Homo sapiens: one gene and its partners. The protein of the gene in region 1 interacts with the protein of each later gene in a biochemical or structural test. Each region holds a gene or a part of one and is shown in the gene's direction. Other genes may lie near its edges.

The links. The genes of interacting proteins can lie anywhere in the genome.
Region 2: the proteins of WWOX (region 1) and PABPC1 form a complex in vitro, tested with the Homo sapiens proteins (one study listed by BioGRID).
Region 3: the proteins of WWOX (region 1) and WIPF2 form a complex in vitro, tested with the Homo sapiens proteins (one study listed by BioGRID).
Region 4: the proteins of WWOX (region 1) and TFAP2C form a complex in vitro, tested with the Homo sapiens proteins (one study listed by BioGRID).

Annotation. Positions count from the first base shown.
Region 1 is NC_000016.10:78,106,154-78,109,653, forward strand, and holds part of WWOX (WW domain-containing oxidoreductase), read left to right. Parts: intron 1-2,269; coding exon 2,270-2,334; intron 2,335-3,500. UniProt on the Homo sapiens protein: Putative oxidoreductase. Acts as a tumor suppressor and plays a role in apoptosis. Required for normal bone development. May function synergistically with p53/TP53 to control genotoxic stress-induced cell death.
Region 2 is NC_000008.11:100,705,089-100,708,588, reverse strand, and holds part of PABPC1 (polyadenylate-binding protein 1), read left to right. Parts: intron 1-1,591; coding exon 1,592-1,702; intron 1,703-1,783; coding exon 1,784-1,938; intron 1,939-2,915; coding exon 2,916-3,000; intron 3,001-3,500. UniProt on the Homo sapiens protein: Binds the poly(A) tail of mRNA, including that of its own transcript, and regulates processes of mRNA metabolism such as pre-mRNA splicing and mRNA stability.
Region 3 is NC_000017.11:40,222,304-40,225,803, forward strand, and holds part of WIPF2 (WAS/WASL-interacting protein family member 2), read left to right. Parts: intron 1-3,500. UniProt on the Homo sapiens protein: Plays an active role in the formation of cell surface protrusions downstream of activated PDGFB receptors. Plays an important role in actin-microspike formation through cooperation with WASL.
Region 4 is NC_000020.11:56,635,806-56,639,305, forward strand, and holds the end of TFAP2C (transcription factor AP-2 gamma), read left to right. Parts: intron 1-804; coding exon 805-949; intron 950-1,922; coding exon 1,923-2,208; 3' UTR 2,209-3,478; downstream 3,479-3,500. UniProt on the Homo sapiens protein: Sequence-specific DNA-binding transcription factor that interacts with cellular enhancer elements to regulate transcription of selected genes, and which plays a key role in early embryonic development.

The DNA of each region.
Region 1 (3,500 bases):
TTGATGTGTGCCTATGAGATAAAGACTGCTTTTAATGGCAGGCAAGGAAAATGCAAGTCCATCTCTTAACTTTCTTGAAGAAGCTTGAGACACAGCTCTGCAAGGGGCTGGAAGGTTTCATGTTATTGCCAATGCTTGGTTTATCTGATTGCTGTTGCCATTCATTTTGAAGGAGAAGCAGGAGTTGGTATACCAATATTCCCACTGTGCCAGCAGAGAGCGGGTTATCCTTACTAGAGAGCCAGAGAGTCAGAACGGTTTTTTTTTGTTTTTTTTTTTTTTTTTTGAGATGGAGTTTCACAATTGTTGCCCAGGCTGGAGTGCACGATCTCAGCTCACCGCAGCCTCTGCCTGCCGGGTTGAAGCAATTCTCCTGCCTCAGCTTCCCGAGTAGCTGGGATTACAGGCATGTGCCACCACGCCAGGCTAATTTTGTATTTTTAGTAGAGACAGGGTTTCTCCATGTTGTTCAGGCTGGTCGCGAACTCCTGACCTCAGGTAATCCGCCTGCCTTGCCCTCCTGAAGTACTGGGATTACAGACATGAGCCACCGCGCCCGGCCACAGAGCTGCTTTTTTTTGCAAGTGATATTGGATGGTGGTTGATGTACAAAGTAGGAGTTTGTCCTTGCTACTGATACCGTAGCTGGTACAAGGTTTTAATCGTTCTCCAAGCACTGTCACAGGTGTCATGTGTCTCGCCTTTTCAGCAGCTCTGTGAGGTGGCAGTAGCCCTGAGGAGACTGGCTGGACTCAGCTAGCATGGGCTGCTCAGGTCTTCAGCGTGCTGAGTGAGGCATTCCTGCACTATGACAGAGACCCAGCTGCCAAGACTTTGTCAAACAGACCAGAAGCCAGCAGTTCATGAAAAGACCTTGCTTGCAAGTTGTAGAATTTTTTAGAAAATTCGTGCTCTCTGTATTTATTTTCTGTAAAATAATTGATAGGGAAAGAATGTTCACATCTTATCATCTAGATGTTGCTGATTAAATAATATAACTTTCTGGGTTGGCATGAGTAGGTGAACTTTTAGGAAACGCAGCCTACCCTTCGAATACCTCTTGTAGCACCTGGCTGTTTCCCTTTTGAAATAATTGTATGTTTTCCTGGATACCTTATTACCTGGTGACACGTGTTTCTAGTTATTGACCTATGTTTTTAATTATAACTTTGGGTGGTGGTCTGAAATGAAATGTTAAGTTTGACGCAAAAATAGGACTAGTTTGTGTAACTGATTTGTTCAGAATAACAGCTTACATTTCTCAGAGCTTTTTGTATGCCAAGTGCTATGCGAAACCCTGGATGTACAATATTCTTATAGTAGCCCCTGAGACCAGTGCTAGGATTATTTCCATTTTGCAGATGAGGGGATGGAGATTAAGGAGTGGGGTCACTTGACCAAAGGTGCACAGCGCACAGCTAGATGCCCTATGGGAAGGTCTTACTGCATCTCTTAACTACCTCTTGGGACCAGTTAGGAACCAGTGCTTAATGAAACACTTTGAAGTTACATCTGTGGAAAGAATAAACATTTTAGCTGGGCAAGGTGGCACGGGCTTCTAGTCCCAGCCACTCAAGAGGCTGAAATAGGAGGGTTACTTGAGTCCAGGAGTTCCAGTCCAGCCTGGGCAACATAGTGAGACCCTGATTCTTTAAAAAGAAACACAAATAAATAAACATTTTAAGAGATTATATAAATTAGATATTATGAATTTTGTCCCTACATCGTGGAATAAAACCAAAACAAATACACAGCAAAATGCCTCTAGATTTATTTATTTATTTATTTATTTTTGAGACAGAGTCTTGCTCTGTCGCCAGGCTGGAGTGCAGCGGCGTGATCTCGGCTCACTGCAACTTCTGCTTCCCTGGCTCAAGCGATTCTCCTGCCTCAGCCTCCCGAGTAGCTGGGACTACAGGCACGTGCCACTGTCCCCAGCTAATTTTGTATTTTTGGTAGAGACAGGGTTTCACCATGTTGGCCAGGATGGTCTCCATCTCCTGACCTTGTGATCTGCTCCCCTAGGGCTCCCAAAGTGCTGGGATTACAGGTGTGAGCCACCGCTCCCGACGGCCTCTAGATATTTTGAGTGATTCAGCAAACCTCCTAAAGTTGACCCCGTAGCTGGGGTCACAGTCCTCTTTCTCCTTCTTCCCCCTACTTCCTTCTTATATCTGGCTATCTGGGAGAGAAAAAATTTAATACAATTGATTACTTTTTAGAAGAGTTAATTTTTACTTATTACTGTGGATTTTTTGTTTTTTAACAGTCACACCGAGGAGAAGACTCAGTGGGAACATCCAAAAACTGGAAAAAGAAAACGAGTGGCAGGAGGTTTGTATGTTGTTGTCTAAGGATCTTGGATGGAAGCATTAAGTAGATGAGGAAATGTCACTGGCAGAGAGGTGACAGGTTATTGTGTGTTTAGGGAGGGCTCTCTGGTAGAGAACCAGACTCCCACTCTGAGGAGCTTATGGGATTTGGCAGAAGAAGATGATGAGATCATAGGGTGGAGTGAGGATGATTTCTTACTGGTCTTAAAGTACCAAAATGGCCAGATGTGGTGGCTCATGCCTGTAATCCCAGCACTTCGGGAGGCCGAGGCGGATGGATCACCTGAGGTCAGGAGTTTGAGACTAGCCTGGCCAACATGTTGAAAGCGCATCTCTTCTAAAAATACAAAAATTAGCTGGGCATGGTTGCATGCGCCTGTAATTCCAGCTACTTTGGAGGCTGAGGCACGAGAAGTGCTCAAACCCAGGAGCTGGAGGTTGCAGTGAGCCAAGATCACACCACTGCGCTCCAGCCTCGGTGACAGAGTGAGATGCTGTCTGAAAAATAGCGACAACAACAACAACAAAAACCAGAAAATAATTGAGGCCTTTGATTCACAGTTTATGATGTTTTCCTATCGTTGCAGTGTTTATAAAATTGTTCTTGGCTATACTATGGAATTAAATATATAAGTATTTGGAAATTTCGTAAAGATTACCATGACTTCTAGGTGATTCTGAGATAATGTATGATCCACGGAATAGAAGTATAAGAAAGGGACAGGCACGGTGGCTTGTGCTTGTGATCCCAGCCCTTTGGGAGGCAGAGGTGGGAGGATCACTTGTGCCTGGGAATTCGAGGTGAGCCTAGGCAACATAGTGAGACCCCATCTCAAAAAAAAATATGAGAAGGTTCCTGCCCTTAAGAGGTTTAGGATCCAGCTGAAGAATCAACATGTGCACATGAAAAAAAATGGCCGTGCCCTCTAATGTCATATGAGGTCAGCGTATGAATGACGTTGGGTGCCTGCCCTGCATATACATATGTTCTTTGAGCTCATTCAAGGGAGAATTCCCATGGATTGGCACAACCAGTATGGTTTATAGAGCGATCAGGAATAAAATAGGTTTTCTTCAAAACAAGAGGCAAAAATGTGGAGCCCAGGGTGGGATCAGGGGCCTTCTGCAGCTGTCGCAGTTGGAACATGTGACGAAAGCCAGTTGATG
Region 2 (3,500 bases), on another chromosome or scaffold:
CATATTTTGTCAGGCCACAGTTTTAAAGGTCTCGTTCCATTTAATCATGTATGAGAATCAGAGTCGTGGTATTTTATGTCTTGTCCTGTGGAACAGTATGTTATATTCCAAGAGCACTTAGAGTTTATTTTTTTAGACAGAGTCTCACTCTTTCTTCTAGTCTGGAGTGCAGTGGCATGGTCTTGGCTTACTGCAGCTTTCACCTCCCGGGTTCAGGTGATCCTCCTGCCTCAGCCTCCCAAGTAGCTGGGACTACAGGCACACGCCACCACGCCCAGCTAATTTTTTAAATTTTTTGTAGAGACGGGATTTTGCCCTGTTGGCCAGGCTGGGAGCACTTAGAATTTTATCATGATTATGTTTCAGGTATATTTATAAGTGTGGGCGGCAAACCACCCAGGTGCCAAGGCAAGAGACCGAGGACACGAGCTGTTCCAATATAATAAAATATAAAATAAGAATAGTTATACCAGATATAGATCTTAGATATGATTATATATGAATATCATTAATCATTAGTTTGTAGCAATTACTCTTTATTCCAATATCATAATAATCCTCACTCTATAATCATAACCTAGGAAAAACCAGGCCATACAGAGATAGGAGCTGAGGGGACATAGTGAGAAGTGACCAGAAGACAAGAGTGCGAGCCTTCTGTTATGCCCAGACAGGGCCACCAAAGGGCTCCTTGGTCTAGTGGTAACGCCAGCGTCTGGGAAGACGCCCGTTGCCAGGCGGACCGAGGTCTAGCAGTAGCGTAAGTGTCAAAGGAAAACACCCACTATTTAGCAGACCGGGAAAGGGAGTCTGCTTTTCCCCTGGGGAGTTTAGAGAAGACTGCTCCTCCACCTCTTGTGGAGGGCCTGACATCAGTCAGGCTTGCCTGCAATTATCCAGAGGCCTAACCGTCTCCCTATGGTGCTGTGCTTCAGTGGTCACGCTCCTAGTCTGCCTTCATGTTCCATCCTGTACACCTGGCTCTGCCTTCTAGATAGCAGTAGTAAATTAGTGAAAGTACTAAAAGTCTCTAATATGCAGAAACAATGGCGTAAGCTGTCTTTCTCTCTGTCTCCTCTCCCTCTCTGCCTCGGCTGCCAGGCGGGGAAGGGCCCCCTCTCCAGTGGACACGTAACCCACGTGACCTTACCTATCATTGGAGATGACTCACACTCTTTACCCTGCCCCTTGTGTTTTGTTTCCAATAAATAACAGTGCAGCCAGACATTCAGGGCCACTACTGGTCTCCGCGTCTTGGTGGTAGTGGTCCCCCGTGCCCAGCTGTCTTTTTTTTTTAAATCTCTGTGTCTCGTGTCTTTATTTCTGCACTCTCTCGTCGCTGCATACAGGGAGAAGCCCACCGACCCTGTGGGGCTGGTCGCTACATATAAGTACTCGTCCTTGTATGAATTAATGTTTTTACTTATTGATGCTCTGAGTCTGGGAAAATGGCAAGTGTTAAGACTCAGCTTTAAAAAGTTTTGTCACTTTTTAGTCTTTTATGCAAACCTCAGATCGAAGAAGACAGCATAAACACTTTTCACTCAGTAAGTTTTCCCAGTTAATGTATATTCACATCTTTAAAATGCAGCATTCCAAAATATGCCCGGTGCTATCCGCCCAGCTGCTCCTAGACCACCATTTAGTACTATGAGACCAGCTTCTTCACAGGTTCCACGAGTCATGTCAACACAGCGTGTTGGTGAGTCTTAATCCTTCCTTTAAAAATTGATCACCAATTTGAAAGAGCAAGATAAAAATACAAAATGTTCTTATTTTTTAGCTAACACATCAACACAGACAATGGGTCCACGTCCTGCAGCTGCAGCCGCTGCAGCTACTCCTGCTGTCCGCACCGTTCCACAGTATAAATATGCTGCAGGAGTTCGCAATCCTCAGCAACATCTTAATGCACAGCCACAAGTTACAATGCAACAGGTATGGATTTAATGATTTCTTAATAAAAATCACATTTCTTGGGTGAAATCAAAGGTGTGAAGACAGCTGGGCACAGTGGCTCACACCTATAACCCCAGCACTTTGGGAGGTTGAGGCAGGCAGATTGCTTGAGACCAGGAGTTTGGGACCAGCCTGGGCAACATACAGGACCCTGTCTCCACAAAGAAAACTAGCTGGGTGTGGTGGCATAAGCCTGTAGTCCTAGCTGCTAGGAAGGCTGAGGCAGGAGGATTGCTCGAGCCCAGGAGTTTAAGGCTGCAGCAAGCTGTAATCCCTGCTGGGTGACAGCAAGACTCTGTCTCAAAAGAAAAAATGTGAAGACAGCTGCATGATAGATTCTTGAGAGCTTAGCCTATCTGGAACATTCTGCTAATATGATAGTATGTAAAATGTCTTACGCTTTTGGAATTGGACAAGCAGCGAGAAATTCACATCCTAAATCACCACGCCTGGTCTGAAACAACTATTACAAGTAGCTATGGGCCAGGCGTGGTGGCTCACACCTCTATGTAATCCCAGCACTTCAGGAGGCCAAGGCAGGTGGATCACTTGAGGTCAGGAGTTTGAGACCAGCCTGGTCAACAGGGTGAAACCCCAGCTCTAAAAATATAAAGATTAGCCAGGCTTGGTGGCACATGCCTGTAATCCCAGCTACTGGGGAGGCTGAGGCAGGAAAGTTGCTTGAATCCGGAGGCGGAGGTTGCAGCGAGCCAAGATTGTGCCGTTGCATTCCAGCCTGGGCGACAAAGTGAGACTCCATCTCAAAAAGAAAAAAAATGTATCTGTGATACATAGTATATAATAACTACTTTGGCTTCTTTCTAATTCGCTCACTCAACTTCTCCACCTCATGTTTCGATGGAAGTCTACCACTTCAGCAGATGTCCATTGATGACTATTTGTATTTGCCATCTTTTTCTGTGCTTTAAACTTAAGAGTTCTCATTTTCTGTCTAGCCTGCTGTTCATGTACAAGGTCAGGAACCTTTGACTGCTTCCATGTTGGCATCTGCCCCTCCTCAAGAGCAAAAGCAAATGTTGGGTGAGTACTTCTGTCCCACCTTGTCAGTTCAGAAAGACTAGAAAATATAGGAATCACTTAGGCACTAGGTCAATCAATTGACAGCTAGGGCAGTGGAATTGATCTGAATTGGCATGAATGATTATGATAGTACAGTTGGTCTGCCTAATTAAAACCACTGGAAAGCCAATAAGAAAATGTATTGTTAGTAATAAATAGGGTAGTAGGGCATTACTCACCATGGGCCCTCACTACATTTTTGAGAGAAGGAATTTGAAGCAAATGAGAAGAAAACTTGTGACTTTGCCTGAACACCGATTTAACAACCTAATGGTAACATTGCTTAATTGGCAAGCTGATAATATCAAGAGTTAATTGCCTTGTGGCAGATTTTATTCTGTCTTCCCATGAAGACATAATGAAATTGTGGATTATGGGTTATTATATACGTGAGACAGAAGTATGGTTCTTAAACCCCAGTTTAATGTGGTAATTCAATGCAGTTAAAAACTTTTTTTTAT
Region 3 (3,500 bases), on another chromosome or scaffold:
GGCCTCCCAAAGTGCTGGGATTACAGGTGTGAGCCACCGCGCCTGGCCGACCTGTCTCTTAAAGGAAAACAAGGCTGGGCGCGCTGGCTCATGCCTATAATCCCAACGCTTTGGGAGGCCAAGGTGGTGGATCACCTGAGATTGCAGTGAGCTGAGATCGCGCCATTGCACTCCAGCCTGGGCAACAAGAGCGAAACTCCACCTCAACAACAACAACAACAACAACAAAAGGAAACATGTTTTTCTGTTTCTTCCTCTTAGCCTTGCTCATGTGTGTGTGTGTTTGTGTGTGTGTGTGTGTGTCTGCGTGCCAGCCAGGGAAGAACTGGTTTTGATTTGATGCATATTCAGTTTTTTTTTTTTTTTTTTTTTTTTTTTTTTTTTGAGACAGAGTTTCGCTCCTGCTGCCCAGGCTGGAGTGGAATGGCGCAGTCTTGGCTCACTGCAACCTCCGCCTGCCGGATTCAAGCGCTTCTCCTGCCTCAGTCCCCCAAGTAACTGGTACTATAGGCATGCACCACCACGCCCAGCTAATTTTTTGTATTTTAGTAGAGATGGGGTTTCACCATGTTGGTCAGGCTGGTCTCGAACTCCTGACTTCAGGTGATCCACCCACCTCGGCCTCCCAAAGTGTTGAGATTACAGGCATGAGCTACCACACCTGGCCGCATGTTTAGTTTTTTAACTCTTATTAATGTCAACTTTTAAAAGTAAAAATTTCATATTGTGTTACATTGGTTGCCATCAAGATGAAGATAGGGAAGTTAAGAGTTGGGGAAGGTGGAGATGAATGAAGTCAATTGATGAAGACTAGTAGAATGTAGTGTTTGTTTTTTTATTTGTTTATTTATTTATTTTGAGACAGAGTCTTGCTGTATTGCCCAGGCTGGAGTGCAATGGCACAATCTTGGCTCACTGCAACCTCTGTCTCCTGGGTTCAAGCAATTCTCCTGGCTCAGCCTCCCAAGTAGCTGGGATTACAGGCATGTGCCACCTGGCTAATTTTTGTATTTTTAGTAGAGACAGGGTTTTGCCATGTTGGCCAGGCTGGTCATTTACTAATTCCACCTCACACTTGATACTAGAGTAGTGTTTACCCTAGCTGGTACTGATAAGTTATGTGATAGCACCAAGGTGAAATGCAGGAGAGGTGTGAACATTGGAGTTTTCAGGTTTTACTGATGGCTTTTACGAAGGGAAGAGATTCTAGACTCACTAGGTGTTTTTAGGAAAAAAAAAAGGCAAGAGGCAAGAGACAGAAGTCTTGTTCTGTTGAAGAGAAAATTTTTTTTTGGGTTTTTTTTTTTTTTTTTTGAGACGGAGTCTCGCTCAGTTGCCCAGGCTGGAGTGCAATGGCATGATCTCTGCTCACTGCAACCTCCACCTCCCAGGTTCAAGCGATTCTCCTGCCTCAGCCTCCTGAGTAGCTGGGTGCCATCACGCCTGGCTAATTTTTGTATTTTTGTAGAGACGAGGTTTCACTGTGTTGGTCAGGCTGGTCTCGAACTTCTGACCTTGTGATCTGCCAGTCTCGGCCTCCCAAAGTGCTGGGATTACAGGCGTGAGCCACCGCGCCCGGCCCGAGAAAATTATTAAATGTTCTTTCTTTACTTGTGTTCTCTGATTGGGAGAGTAACCTGGTATATGTTAGTCTGTTTTCCTGCTCTGAAATAACTGTGAAATTCATGGGCTCTTGGTTCAGGCAGCTTCAGCAAACATAGTCTTCTTACAACCCCAGGAAGAGTTGCAGGCTACAAAATATATGTACTTATTTGGGAGTAAAAACCTGCTTAATATTATGCTATTGCAACCTACAGTGTACCTTTTTGGTTTGTTTTTTAAGGGGATTTTGAGATAACATATGGAGGCTCGGTGCTCCTGGGCGGACTTTTGGTACAGCCTGCTTATTTTTTTTTTCTTTTCTTTTCTTTTTTTTTTTTTTTTTTGAGACGGAGTCTCACTTTGTCCCCCAGGCTGGAGTGCAGTGGCGCAATCTCGGCTCACTGCAAGCTCCGCCTCCCAGGTTCACGCCATTCTCCTGCCTCAGCCTCCTGAGGAGCTGGACTACAGGCGCCTGCCACCACGCCCGGCTGATTTTTTGTATTTTTTTTTTTTTTTTTTTTGTAGTAGAGACGGGGTTTCAACTTGTTAGCGAGGATGTCTTGATCTCCTGACCTTGTGATCCACCCGCCTCGGCCTCCCAAAGTGCTGAAATTACGGGCGTGAGCCACCGCGCCCGGCCCAGCCTGCTTCTTTAACATAATGATTTTCCATTTTTCCTATCCTGTCACAGTTTTCCGTTGCTCTGCTTGAGCCAGTCCTATGTAGAAAGTGGCAAATTACACATTTTTTCTCCCCTTTTAGTCTCTGGTGGACATCTTGTCTGTGTCACAGTTTGATACTACCAAATTGAAAGGATTCTTCACTGCTTCAGATGGGGAGGGTGACAGAAGCTGAGCTGTTTCCTGGGTCAGATAATGGCCTCTGTCAAAGCAAAGAATAGTTGTAGAGACACAAACTGGGCCCTTGAAGCTGTGACTAACATTTTGGCAACATGCATCCCTTTGCCAAATAACTTCTTTTCTTCTTGAGTGTGATTGTTGATCTCCTTCTCAAAGTAGGCTCTTGTTGCTACTATTCTTCACACAACTCCCAAGCAAAAGTTGGCAGAGTTCCGGTTGACTGACTGTGTCTTGAGGGATATGCCCCGGATTAGAGTGGATGGGGCGTTCCATGTCAAAATGAGGTTCATTGGCAGATCCTGAGAGCTGCTTTGCAAAGAAATAGAGGCAGTACTCTTTACTGAATGTTCTTGCGGTCCTTTATCTTTCTTCTAAATTCAAGTCTGTTTCTTATTCATCTAGTGATTAAATGCAGAATCATTGCCTTTGCCTAGCTTCGTGGGCATTGTGGAAGAGAAGACAGTATTTCCAACTTTTTTTTTTTTTTTCTTTTCTCACAAGCCATTGAGCCTGAGGAACTACAGGCTAAATTTATGAGCATTTCTTGATATCTACAGAGGGCTACTAAAAAAAAAATGCTGAATAGACCTTTATGGGGAACAACAATGTTAATAGGAAAAAAAGGTGATATGTTTGCTAATGTCTATGTCAGTCTTAACTCTCTTTAAGATTTTGGCTCATTTTGGCTTAAGAGCCTGCAGAAGTATGTAAGTTATCAAATAGGGGAGCCAGGAATTGGTTTCTTCCTTGCCATTTAAGCTTGGCAAAGTTAGAGCAATTTGGAATGGCTATCCAACAATGTGTTCTACTTAGTAAATACTCTCTTGTTTTTCAGGGGATAGTTAGCTAAAGGTAGGGTTATCTCCAATATGTTTTGGGATGGATCGTGAAGATCATTCCCTTTTTATTTTGAGACAGGATCTCTCTCTCTTGCCCAGGCTGGAGTGTGGCGGCGTGATCTGTAGCCTCGACCTCCCCAGGCTCAGGCTCAGGTGTTCTTCCCACTTCAGCCTCCTGTGTAGCTGGGACTACAGGCGC
Region 4 (3,500 bases), on another chromosome or scaffold:
AAATGTTATATTTGTATATAACCTACACACATCCTTCCGTATAGTTTAAATCATCTCTGCATCACTTACTTATAATACCTAATACTATGTAAATGCTATGTAAATAGTTGTTACATTGTATTGCTCAGGGAATAATGGCAAAAGTCTGTGTGTGTTCAGTACAGACACAACCATTCATTATTTCCCCCCCGAATCTTTTCAATCTGAGTTTGGATGAATACAGATTCTGAACCCACGGATACAGAGGGCTGACTTGATTGTGCAGTTAGAAGTTTCAGGGTCTTTTCTGCTCACATTGTGTGATCTCCACCCTCTATTCCTGGGGTGGAGGACCTACTGAGAATCCCTAGAAAGTTCTACCTACCAGCTGAGTTGTCTGCCCTGTATATGATTTCGTTCTTGCATGCAACGTATGACTGGTAGACAATGAATACTACTAGAAAGAGAGAAAATGGGGGCTGGGTGCTGTGGCTCATGTCTATAATCCCTGGCATGAGCCATTGGTTGAGACCAGGAGCTCAAGACCAGCTGGCCAATGTGGCAAAACCCTGTATCTACTAAAAATACAAAAATTAGCTGGGTATGGTGGTGCATGTCTGTAATCCCAGCTATTCAGGGGCTGAGGCACGAGAATTGCTTGAATTCCGGAGGTGGAGGTTGCAGTGAGCAGAGATCGGGCCACTGCACTCCAGCCTGGGCAACAGAGCGAGACTCCGTGTCAAAAAAAAAAAAAAAGAGAGAGGAAAAGGGCAGTTTGGCCTCAGTGACCACAGCCATCCTAAAAGCTGTTGCTGATTATTCTAGGTGAAGCTGTTCATTTGGCTAGGGACTTTGCCTATGTCTGTGAAGCCGAATTTCCTAGTAAACCAGTGGCAGAATATTTAACCAGACCTCATCTTGGAGGACGAAATGAGATGGCAGCTAGGAAGAACATGCTATTGGCGGCCCAGTAAGTATCTGAACTTGAATTTGATGATGACTCAATGCTCTAGACCTTGAGGTTGAGAAGATTCCCCCTCCACAGTCCCGATGGCTCAACAAAGAAATATTCTTGAAATAAATTAGGGTGGAGCAAAAGAAAATGGCAAGGGAGCTTCTTTTACAAAGTCAAATACATTAACTTTTTGTATGATTTAGAAGAGTGCATGACTCAGCCATGAGTATTTTTGAGCTGCTTAGTTATTCAACCCAAAGTAGTTGAGCTGCCCTTTCATTATTGTGTTAGCATATCTTACAAAAATGTGTTGAAAACCCGATTTGTTTTGTCACAACCAGTAAAGAGAGATTGTGTGCCTTCTACCTCCTGATAGCAAGACTTTTGTCTTTCAAATGTAAAGATCAGGGTGGATTTGTGGGCAAATTAACTGTCTCCAAAACGACTTAATGCAGCTGTGGGTTTTCTCATAGAAACCAACAGTAAGTTGATTTGAAAATGATGGTAAATGAAGCAGAACTAGTCGAGCCAGGAAATGGGGTAAAAGAGAGCGCAGTGAACCAGGCTGTGTCAGGAGTCAGAATTTCAGGGGGATGCTTCCTTCTCCCGGTTCCTCACGGAATTTGTTTATTGGAACCAACTTGTACCAAGGTAAACTGTCCCTTAAGCTCATGGGTTGGAATCCAGGCCCCATTACTTTTACCAGTCCTGGTGACCTTGGCCAGTTAGCTGGGGTTAAGTTAATCCTGTTGTCTTTTCTAATTGCAGTGAGGATTAAATAAGATAGTGCTTTAAAACAGCTTAACTCAGAGCCTGGCGCAGAATAGTTGCTAAGCGCAGCAGTTGGCTATTAGTATTAAATTCTCCTTCCTCGGGTTGAAGCAGTTGTGCTTGCCTCCCGGGCGCCAGCCTCAGTGTAGTTGGTTCTGTGCTCTTGACCTGTAAGGAGCTAGATGGAACTCATCGAGTCAACTGACTGTCTTCACAGGCAACTGTGTAAAGAATTCACAGAACTTCTCAGCCAAGACCGGACACCCCATGGGACCAGCAGGCTCGCCCCAGTCTTGGAGACGAACATACAGAACTGCTTGTCTCATTTCAGCCTGATTACCCACGGGTTTGGCAGCCAGGCCATCTGTGCCGCGGTGTCTGCCCTGCAGAACTACATCAAAGAAGCCCTGATTGTCATAGACAAATCCTACATGAACCCTGGAGACCAGAGTCCAGCTGATTCTAACAAAACCCTGGAGAAAATGGAGAAACACAGGAAATAAAATTGGAACGAAGAAAGGTTAGGAGAGTAGGGAAGGAACAGGACTGCAAAAATCCTTCTCCACCGCACAGACTGGGAACCCCTCCTGGCCTGGGGGAAGAGTTTGTTACCTACCTTACTATTTAAAGAGCCTTCACTGGTTCTGCATCACCCGCCCCTGGACTTCTTAGTTGTTTCTCTAGCGCTGAGCTATCTCCTAACTTTGGACCTATTATCAGAAGGTGACAAGTACTGGCTCTTTATTCATTAAGCTTTTTTTTTTTGAACCCCATTCTTTCCTTCTCTGAAAGTGGTGCTATAAGTTTTAGAATCTTTTAAATACATTCCCTGGGCCAACAGACCCACACACTTAGCCATTGAAATGTCAAATTGATGTGCCCTAGATCAACAGATCAACAATACCTTTTTTTTCAGTGTTAAGGTAATGGTTGGTTTTTGTGTCCGCTAAATATTTACCTTGAAAAAAAGAAAAGTGTGTATCTAGCTTCTTCAGAGATCAAGTCCTCTGGTAGGAGGCAAAGGTTCTATCTGCTTAGCAACTAGTTAATAAGTGGTATCTGACACACTCTAAACCCCGTGTTCAAACGGGGGCCTTCTGGTTTTAGGAAACTTGTAGAAACGAAGCCTGCTGATTGATTTTTTTCTCCTTTTTTTTTTTTTTTTTTTTTAACTTTGAAAGTTAACTCTTCAAATGGGAGACTCTTTGAAATGACATGTTCCTTTAAGGTACTGAAGCTTTATTTGCATATTTATTTCAGATGTTTCGAGTAAACTTGAAAAGGGTAGGCACGAAGCAATTTGTTGCTGCTTGTCACCCCCAAGTCCCCGTGGAGGTTCTGTATTTTAAGAAACAGTGCGTTGAGTGTACAGATTTTATTTATGCGTAATTTAATGGGGTCTGTAAATACTGGTGCACTTCTTACGACTTTTTTGAGACATGGGATCCAATTTTAATATTAACTTTTAATGGTGATGGGGTAATCTATAACACATCATAAGGTTTTATTCATATATATACAGGGTATTAAGAATTAAGAGGATGCTGGGCTCTGTTCTTGGCTTGGAAGATTCTATTTAATTGAAACTCTCTGTTCAGAAAGCAATAACTTTGTCTCGTTCCTGTTGGGCTGAACCCTAAGGTGAGTGTGCAGTACAGTGTGTGTGGGTGAAATGGAGATTTGGAATTGAACTCTCTGCCTGTAAATGTTCCCCAAATAATTGTTGTGTGTATGATACGTGTATAATAAAAGTATTCTTGTTAGAATCTGAAAGTCTGGCTATAGGTTTTTGTTT